2 separate regions of the Homo sapiens genome follow, and region 2 is linked to region 1. Evidence: fine-mapped expression QTL. A gene starts in region 1. The other region holds a variant in brackets. All regions are shown on one strand. Distances are from middle to middle. Region 1 holds the start of TRO (trophinin). Region 2 holds the start of ITIH6 (inter-alpha-trypsin inhibitor heavy chain family member 6).

The links.
Region 2: its variant is fine-mapped to the expression of TRO in adrenal gland (GTEx, PIP 0.97).

What each region holds. Positions count from the first base shown.
Region 1 is chrX:54,918,014-54,923,397 of GRCh38, forward strand. TRO (trophinin) reads left to right here and starts at 2,811. Exons shown (of 13, transcript NM_001039705.3): 1 at 2,811-2,865; 2 at 4,190-4,278; 3 at 4,565-5,384. The coding sequence starts at 4,234.
Region 2 is chrX:54,796,472-54,801,855 of GRCh38, forward strand. ITIH6 (inter-alpha-trypsin inhibitor heavy chain family member 6) reads right to left here and starts at 1,784. Exons shown (of 13, transcript NM_198510.3): 1 at 1,638-1,784; 2 at 471-625. The coding sequence starts at 1,739. The variant T/A (reference allele first, on the strand shown) is at 3,364.

The DNA of each region.
Region 1 (5,384 bases):
ATCCAACTTACAAGGGATGTGAAGGACCTCTTCAAGGAGAACTACAAACCACTGCTCAATGAAATAAAAGAGGATACAAAGAAATGGAAGAACATTCCATGCTCATGGCTAGGAAGAATCAATATCGTGAAAATGGCCATACTGCCCAAGGTAATTTATAGATTCAATGTCATCCCCATCAAGCTACCAATGACTTTCTTCACAGAATTGGAAAAACTACTTTAAAGTTCATATGGAACCAAAAAAGAGCCCGCATCACCAAGTCAATCCTAAGCCAAAAGAACAAAGCTGGGGGCATCTCGCTACCTGACTTCAAACTATACTACAAGGCTAGAGTAACCAAAACAGCATGGTACTAGTACCAAAACAGAGATACAGATCAATGGAACAGAACAGAGCCCTCAGAAATAATGCCGCATATCTACAACTATCTGATCTTTGACAAACCTGAGAAAAACAAGCAATGGGGAAAGGATTCCCTATTTAATAAACGGTGCTGGGAAAACTGGCTAGCCATATGTAGAAAGCTGAAACTGGATCCCTTCCTTACACCTTATACAAAAATTAATTCAAGATGGATGAAAGACTTAAACGTTAGACCTAAAACCATAAAAACCCTAGAAGAAAACCTAGGCATTACCATTCAGGACATAGGCATGGGCAAGGACTTCATGTCTAAAACACCAAAAGCAATGGCAACAAAAGCCAAAATTGACAAGTGGGATCTAATTTAACTCAAGAGCTTCTGCACAGCAAAAGAAACTACCATCAGAGTGAACAGGCAACTTACAGACTGGGAGAAAATTTTTGCAACCTACTCATCAGACAAAGGGCTAACATCCAGAATCTACAATGAACTCAAACAAATTGACAAGAAAAAAACAAACAACCCCATCAAAAAGTAGGTGAAGGACATGAATAGACACTTCTCAAAAGAAGACATTTATGCAGCCAAAAAACACATGAAAAAATGCTCACCATCACTGGCCGTCAGAGAAAGGCAAATCAAAACCACAATGAGATACCATCTCACACCAGTTAGAGTGGCAATCATTAAAAAGTCAGGAAACAACAGGTGCTGGAGAGGATGTGGAGAAATAGGAACACTTTTACACTGTTGGTGGGACTGGAAACTAGTTCAACCATTGTGGAAGTCAGTGTGGTGATTCCTCAGGGATCTAGAACTAGAAATACCATTTGACCCAGGCATCCTATTACTGGGTATACACCCAAAGGACTATAAATCATGCTGCTATAAAGACACACGCACACATATGTTTATTGCGGCATTATTCACAATAGCAGAGACTTGGAACCAACCCGAATGTCCAACAACGATAGACTGGATTAAGAAAATGTGGCACATATACACCATGGAATACTATGCAGCCATAAAAATGATGAGTTCATGTCCTTTGTAGGGTCATGGATGAAATTGGAAATCATCATTCTCAGTAAACTACTGCAAGGACAAAAAACCAAACACCGCATATTCTCACTCATAGGTGGGAATTGAACAATGAGAACACATGGACACAGGAAGGGGAACATCACACTCTGGGGACTGTTGTGGGGTGGGGGGAGGGGGGAGGGATAGCATTAGGAGATATACCTAATGCTAAATGACGAGTTAATGGGTGCAGCACCCCAGCATGGCACATGTATACATATGTAACTAACCTGCACATTGTGCACATGTACCCTAAAACTTAAAGTAGAATAATAATAAAATAAAATAAAAAAGACTTGTTTTTGGCCTAACTTATGATCTATCCTGGAGAATTTTCTATGTGTGCTTGAGAATATTATATATTCTATTGGATAAAATATTCCGTAGGTCCTTTTTGTCTAAAGTGTATTTCAAGTTCAATGTTTCCCTATCGATTTTCTGTCTGGATGATCTGTGAATTGTTGAAGATGGGGTCTTGAAGTCTCCTACCATTATTGTATTGCAGTCTACTTCTCCCTTCAGATCTATTAATATTTGTTTTATATATTTAGGTGCTTCTATGTTGGGTGCATATATTAAATATGTTTATAATTATTCGATATTCACGATGAATTTATCTCATTATCATTATATAATGACCTTTAAGATCTTTTATGGTTTTTGACTTTAAGTCTATTTTATTTGACATATGTGTAGTTATCCTTGCTCTCTTTTGAATGATTGATGGAATAGATAAATGTCATGAATTGTTTTCTGCATGGGGGCACAGTGCACCATGTCACAAGAGACAGTCTAAGTACAAACTGATATTGTTAAAACATCAATATAGTCATTGTGGGATCAATAAAAACTTTTCATAGATTTTTATACATTACTGTTTTTATTCTGAATTGCATAAGATGGACGGGCACCCTATCTTTTAGTGTTTAGAACCTCTAAATGTTTTAATGTGGTAACACTTGAAAAACAGAAATGAATATGACCTAGTCCCCTGCTCCAGAGCAGCTCTAGGGAAGAGAGACATAGACACAAGGTATAACAACACTATGTAAATAGTGTTGGGATAGAGGGTCTGTAGGAAGGGTTGGTGTGGGAGTTCAGAGAACTACATTCCTCCTAGGGGAAACAGGAGAATCAAATAGGAACGGAGATACAGAGTGGGGAATAGAGAAGTCAAATGGAGAATAAGAGGGAGTGATAACTGAATAGGGGTAGTAAGAAGAAAAAGGGAGCTACATTGAGGAGAATGGAAAGTTGAAAGTAGGTATGGAGGGGAGGAGACTGACAGGCAGGAACGGAGACCCCCCTCTGGAGGCGGAAAGAGGCAGGACCACTTCCGGCCAGGGAGGGGGATAGGCTCAGACACAAGGAGAGGCTTGGAGAGAGCAGACGCCTTCTGGATTCAAGAAGACGAGGTGAGCTGAGGTACCTGGCTTTAGTGAAGACCCTGTGGGGGCTTCCTGGCTGCGGCTTCGACGTGCCTGACTCCACACGCCCCTAAGGTTTGAAGAAAACCTGCTGGAGGTTTGGGACCTAACCGCATCAAAGTCGCCTTTAGCGGTGCCTGGACCCAGTTCGCACGGGAGGAAGTAGGAGGCAGAATCCCCTTTGGGCCACAGAAAGTAACGATCTGGACTCGGTTCGGGCCGTGAAAGGGAGGGATGCAGACCTAGTTGGGACCGCAGAAAGGAAGGATCGAGAAATCCTTCAGACGGTAGCAAGAGGGGAGGAGGATACACACAGTTCGGGAGGGAGATAGGAGACGGCAGGACTCCGTTTAGGCTGGAGAAAGGGGGCAGTACCCCGTTTGGGCCACAGAATGGAGGGATCGGGACCCAGAGATAAGAGTGGGCAGCATCCCTTTTGAGCAACGGAAAGGACCAGACTCAGACAGGAGAAAGGAGGGGATATGACCCGGTTGGTTCCGGTTTGAAAGGGAAGAGACAGGACCTGGTAGGGTTTGAGAACAGGAATACACAGAAGGTTCATACAGTTGGATTTGGGGGTGAGGTATTCATGTTGCAGAAAGGGCGGAGCTGCACACTTGCAGACGTGGAAAGAGGGGGGAGTGGTGTTGGTTGGGGAAGGGGTGGTGCAGAGACGTACCGCAGAGCGGAGGGAGGGGGCTTATTAAAGGAAGGGAAGATGAAGAGAAATGCTGCAGAGCGGAGGGAGGGGGGTGTATTGGGAAGGGGCGGTGCGTGGCAGTACCGCAGAGGAGAGATGGGCGGTGTTGGGGTAGGGGCGGTGCGGAGTGGTACTGCAGAGCGGAGGGAGGGGGCTAGTGTTGGGGGAAGGGTTGGATCGAGATGTGATGCAGTTAGAAAGAGTGGGTCGGGGTGGCGCCAAGATGTTCTGTTGCTCTGAGAGCAGGGGGCAGATGTGGGATTGAGCTGGTTAGAAACTGTCCGGTTTACCAAGGCGCATGCGCGCGGAGGGCATTGAAGAATGGTTCTTTTGGGATAGAGGTGGGCCTAAGATGGGGGGTGGGGGCGCCTCTAGTCGGTGCGCATGCGCACTATCGAGTTGCGGAGGGGGCGTGTAAAGGGGTGGGGTCGTAGAACTGACTCTCTCGGAGGCAAAAGGAGCTGGGCCTTGGAAACCAGATGGCCTGGGTTTTTTAGGTATGAAAACCCAGGAGTTGAAGGGATTAGGGCCCAAGGTTACATGAGACTCCCCTAAGTCAGGATAGGTGAGATGTCTGATGAATCTCCCCCTCCCTCTCATTCTCTAACTCAGGCCCATTCCCCTCAGGCTCACCTGTTACTCGGCCTCCCAGAAAGATGGATAGGAGAAATGACTACGGATATAGGGTGCCTCTATTTCAGGTGAGGCCTCTCTGCATTCTCTCTAGGCCATCTGCCCCATCCTGAGTTCACTTACTGCTCTTCAGACCCCTTCCACCGTGTAGTTTCATAATTCCCTGCCTAACTCGTCTCAGTCCTCCCTTACATGGTGAAGGAGAGGAGAGGAAAACCTGCCTGACTCTATTCCTTCCTTGCTCCCTACCCCATTTTAATTAACCACTGCTCAGAGGAAGGGAAGGCCTTTGTGGAAAGGGATGGGCTTTAGCGAGGCCAAATGGCCCAGAGGATGGTAATCCTAAGTGTGTAGGGCCCTCTGCCTCCCCCGGGGAGCCTGGGGCTTCCCTTCCCTCCAGATATACAGACTGAGACCACAGAAGAGGACAGTGTCCTGCTGATGCATACCCTGTTGGCGGCAACCAAGGACTCCCTGGCCATGGACCCACCAGTTGTCAACCGGCCTAAGAAAAGCAAGACCAAGAAGGCCCCTATAAAGACTATTACTAAGGCTGCACCTGCTGCCCCTCCAGTCCCAGCTGCCAATGAGATTGCCACCAACAAGCCCAAAATAACTTGGCAGGCTTTAAACCTGCCAGTCATTACCCAGATCAGCCAGGCTTTACCTACCACTGAGGTAACCAATACTCAGGCTTCTTCAGTCACTGCTCAGCCTAAGAAAGCCAACAAGATGAAGAGAGTTACTGCCAAGGCAGCCCAAGGCTCCCAATCCCCAACTGGCCATGAGGGTGGCACTATACAGCTGAAGTCACCCTTGCAGGTCCTAAAGCTACCAGTCATCTCACAGAATATTCACGCTCCAATTGCCAATGAGTCAGCCAGTTCCCAAGCCTTGATAACCTCTATCAAGCCTAAGAAAGCTTCCAAGGCTAAGAAGGCTGCAAATAAGGCCATAGCTAGTGCCACCGAGGTCTCGCTGGCTGCAACTGCCACCCATACAGCTACCACCCAAGGCCAAATTACCAATGAGACAGCCAGTATCCACACCACAGCAGCCTCCATCCGAACCAAGAAAGCCTCCAAAGCCAGGAAGACAATTGCTAAGGTCATAAATACTGACACTGAGCATATAGAGGCTCTAAATGTCACTGACGCAGCTACCAGGCAGATTG
Region 2 (5,384 bases), 120 kb before region 1:
TCAGAGATTGAGACCATCCTGGCTAACACGGTGAAACCCCGTCTCTACTAAAAGTACAAAAAATTAGCCGGGTGTGGTGGCATGCGCCTGTAGTCCCAGCTACTTGGGAGGCTGAAGTAGGAGAATCGCTTGAACCTGGGAGGTGGATGTTGCAGTGAGCTGAGATTGTGCCACTGCACTCCAGCCTGGGCAACAGAGCGAGACTCCATGTCAAAAAAAAAAAAAAGAAAGAAAGAAAAAAAGAAAGTGGGTTCTAATTTTATCCCCATTTTGTAGATATGTAAAATGAGACTCCCAGAAATGAAGTAACTTGCCCTGGGTCCCAAACTGGCAGAGCCAGGATTCAGACTCAAGAAGTCTGATCTCAGAGTGCATTGTCTTAATCACTATGCTCTGCTGACAGAATAAGCACAAGAACGAACAAATATATGCACAAATGAATGAAGTGGTGACTTTGGAAGCAGACTTACATAGTGAAATTGGAGATAAAGGCAAGATGAGGCAGATCCAGGTCAAAGATGGCTTCATGGGCTTCAGCATGTGGATTAAACAGGACAGAGGTGACCAAGGTGTGGGCATAGCGAGACACCACCGTGGAGCGCATAGAATAGCTTGTCATTAACAACTGAGAGAGAAGACAGGAGGAGGTGTTTTAGGTAGACTATGTCCTCAGCCTAGATGGGCTAGTCTTTGGGAACCCAAGATTCCTACACAGGCCTCAAAGTATACAGGTGGATAAACTAAGGCCTAGAGAGGGAAAACAACCTCTGTCATCCATTTGGTGGATCTGCCTGATTACTTCAGCAAGCTTTATCAAGTCTCAGAACCCAAGACTCACAGAAGATTAGAGATCAAGGGACCTCTCTGGACAAGCACTTCTCTAACTTTGATGTGCACATGAATCTCCTGGAAAGCTTGTTAAAATGAAGATTCTGATTCAGCAAGACTAGGGTGAAGGCTGAGATTTTATCTTTCTAAAAAGCTCCCATGGAATGATGCTGCTGCTAGTCCACAGATTTCACTTTGAGTAGCAAGGCTTTAGAATATAGCAGAGCATCCGCCATTCATTGAATCCTACTCTGTCCAAGGCACTGTGATAAATACTGATTTTTTTCTTCTTTAGGATCTCAGGTGTAAAGAGTTGCACTTATAAGCACAATCATGCACTGCAAGCATGGTAAGTATCTGGCATCCATGATGAGGGCACACAGCAAGTACAATATCTATCTTCTTCCTCTCCTTTCTTGAGGCAATGGTCCCTCTATCTACCCACACGTGATGCAGAGCTAGTTCCTTCCCAGTGTGGGGCAGTGGGAAATGAGGATGATTTGAGATCAGACGGTTCTGCCACTTCCTAACTGTGTCTTAACCTTGGAACCTCTGTTTTCTCTTCTCTATAATGGGGATAATAATATAGCCCAGCTCACAGAGATGCTGTGAGGACTAAATGAAATAATAATTCTGGGACCCCTGGTGCAGCACCTGACATGTGCTCAGCAAATAGTACCTCTTTTCTCTGGCTCTAGTTTCTCAGTCATAGGACTGAAGAAACACACTGAATAACCTTCCCAAATTTCCCCCAAGAAGCTAATTTTATCACAAATCCCCAAGCTTTTTTCCCTCATCCCAGAACTGACCTTTGTGCTTGATGAAGCGGGGACAGGGGGTCCCTGGTATGTCAGTTCAAGAAGAATGGTCAGCAAAAAGCTGACACAGATGAGGTACCTCCACCCAGACATGATGCCACCTCTGGCCTGGATCTGTTGTTCACATCCAGAAGATCTGAGCCCGATCTCCAAACCCTTGCTCTTTTAAACCTCCAGGTATCCCTTCTCTTGAGAGGGAGGGACCATCCTGAAGGGTGGGGAAGGCTCTGAATGTGGCATTGAGGCTCACACAAGCCAGGATTGTCCAAGAGCTGGGGCTGGCATCTTGCCTGGAGAAGGGCCAGTTCTACGCTTCCTTTTTTCCCCTCATCCAGCTGTAAGATGAATGGAAACTAAACATACCAGAGTGCTGGGTCTGTCTGTTTGCTGTGTTGGCTCAGGGTGGGGTTTTTCTTTCCTATAAACATCCACAGGAGCCCAGTAACTGGGGCCAGAGAAAGGTCACTTAGCACTGATCATCTTAAAAAGGTAGTGGCGATGAGAGAGGGATTGGCAAGGCAAGCCCCCAATACTGGTCTTCCCTGGTATTATTGACTTTAGCCTAGTGCCGGGAGGGACTTACTCAGGATCCTATAACAATTTAGGGGTCCCATAGACATAATAAGACTTACAATCTCTAGAATAGCCAGAGGCCAAGACAGGCTGGGGCAGGACTGAGAAAGAATATAACACAGTGGTTTCAAAATACAGGCTCCAGACCCAGACCACATGGGTTTGAATCTCAGTTCTGCCACTTACTGACTGTATAATACTGAGCAAGTTAATTAACCTCTCTGTAGCCTCAGTTTCTTCATCTATAAAATAAGAATAGTAATAGCACCTACTTCATAAAGTTCTTATGAAGATTAAGTGAGTTTGTACTTTTAGAATGCTTGGCACATGGTAAGTGATCAGTAAATAGCTGCTAGGAGGAGGGCAGGATGAGGCATGACAGAGATCAAAAGTCTGGAAAGCTCCCTGTCCTCTGAGACCTGAGTGGAGGGAGAAGGGAGGAGCTGAGGTGCTCTGGACTCAGGATCTGCAGGTCCTGTGGAGGGTGGGGGTGAGGAATGGGGCTGAGAAAAAGGAAAGTACTTGAAGGTCTGCACAAGGACTATCAGCCTCAGTCAGAATCCTGCCGACCCTGGCCCTCCGGCCTCTACCCATCCACACAGGGAGCATAGACAGCTCCAGTACTTACTCTCAGGGGCAAAATCTCTGATGACATTTTACAAACTGCCCCAGGAACACTCAGATTTGTCCTAGGGCATTTGGCATCCCAACAAAGTCTTCTCATTCTGGCATCTGTGGGTCCCAAAACCTGTCAGTTGCCACCTCGCACAAGTCCGCACCAAGTTTCCTCTCAGGATTTCCTCACGAGGGAGAGTCCTAGCTAGAGAACAGCTCTGCTTATACAGCAACAGAGAAAACTCCCATCGGCTACCCAGTCCTTTTCTCTTAAATATGAATGAGTAGCCAAGGAGCCTCAAGCAAATTAAGGAAGCCTGTAGCATGAAAGCAAAATACTAAAAGAAACAAATAGAACAACTGACCCTAGAGCAATTTGAGGATCTGGGAAACAAAAGAGAACTTCAGGGGAAAAATTGATACTATTCTGAATAAGATTCAAGAAGATATAACATGCATAAAACAAGAACTAGATGCCATAAAACAGGAACAATCAGAGAAAACAGAGATTCCTTAGAAATTAAAAATA[T/A]GTTACTGAAATAATACATTTTCCAGGACCAGGAAATGAGGAAATCTTCCAGAATGTAGGGCAAAAAAGCCAAGGCAACAGAAAATGTGAGAGAAAATTTAAGAGAGATGGATTAATCTAGCAAATTAGACATTCAAATAATAGGAGTTCTAGATAGAGAAAACAAAACAATGAAGGAAACTTTATTGAAAACATATTAGGCCAGATGTGGTGGCTCACATCTGTAATCCCAGCACTTTGGGGGGTTGAGGCGGGAGGATCGCTTGAGGCCAGGAGTTTGAGATCAGCCTGGCTAACATAGTGAGACCCTGACTCTACAAAAAAAAGTAAAAAGAAATAGCCAGTCGTGATGGCTCTCATCTGTAAATCCCAGCTACTTGGGAAGCAGAGGCGGGAGGATTGCTTGAGCCCAGGAGTTCGAGGTTACAGCGAGCCATGATTGTGCCACTGTACTCCAGCTTGGGAGACAGAGTGAGACCCTGTCTCAAAAAAATAGATATATTAGAAGTTATAATAATTTCCTACACCTGAAGAAGGATCTCCAGACAGGTGCCCAGAACAGTGAATCCAGGAAACAGTGAAGCCAGGAAACAGTGAATCCAATTCAAGCAATAACTGCAGCAGCCTCCTTACTGGTCCTCCTGCTTCAGCCTTCATCATCCCCTTTTCTGCCTCCCACCAGTATATTTTTACAACAACCAGAGGGATCCTTTTGAAACCCAAGTCAGATCCTGTCCCCTTTTTGCTCAAAACTCTCCTGTGGATCCTGCTTGTGGCTTACATGGCCCTATGTGAGAGGGGTCAGTGAGGCAAGCCCTCATTACCCATCTGACCCCATTTCCTATTACTTCCCTTCCTGCCTTCCTCCATCACTCTAGCAACTCTGGCCATTGTGTTCTTCAAAAGTGCCAGGCATGGGGAAAAAATGCCAGGCATGATCCTGTCCCATGGCCTTTGCAATGACTGTTCTTTCTGCTTGGAATGTTTTCTCACCAAGTATCCACTTGACTAGTTCTCTCACCTTATGCTAGTCTTTGCCCACATGCTACCTTTTCAGTGAGTGTTTCCCTGACCAACCTATTTACTTATTTTTTAACTTTTTTGTTATTGATACATAATATTTGTATAAATTTATGGGATACACTGATATTTTGTTACATGCATAGAATGTGTAATAATCAAGTCAGGGTATTTATGGTATCCATTGCCTTGAGTATTTATCATTTCTATGTGTTGGGAAAATTTCAACTTATCTTTTCTAGCTATTTTGAAATATACAACACATTGTTATGACAAGCCTATTTAAAACTGAAATTTTTCTCCATAGCACTTATCACACATTTTAATTTGGATACATTTTACTGATTTATCTTATTATCTTTTCTCTCTCCCTTACTAGAATCAGCTCCATGGGGGCCAAGGATTGCTATCTGTCTTCTTCACTGCCTAGCCTAATCTCCTAGAACAGTACCTGACACGTAGTAGACACTCAAAAAATACTTGTTGAATGAGTGAATACAATAAAAGCATATAATTCAAGGAAAAAAGAAAGGCTTTTAGAAACTCTGTGTGTGTGTGTGTGTGTGTGTGTGTGTGTGTGTAATTATTCAAGAAAGTCTTGGCCAAATACAAAGCAAAATAAAATGTAATATGATTATGAGCAGCTGATAAGAGTATAAGAAAGATTCCATTTGACCTTGATGCTAGAAACATTCTCCTCTGAGAGGCCCAAAGATTGTGACATTGAACTTGAAGAGAAGGAAGCGTATTCCAGGCTCACTGCTTGGCTAGATTTTGAAAAATATTTACATAGCCATGATAATGTGAATGCTGTTTATTGGGTTTCAGGTCATAGAGTCAACCTGGGGAGACAAAGCAGGGAAGATCTGATTGTGGCTGCAGAACAGAATGTAAATGTTAATAACCAGGGCAATGTAAAAGGAAAGATAAAACTGACAATGTGGGACATTGAATGGGCAGGGGGAGGGTTGTAGCCATAATATCCTTGTCTTAAAAAATGG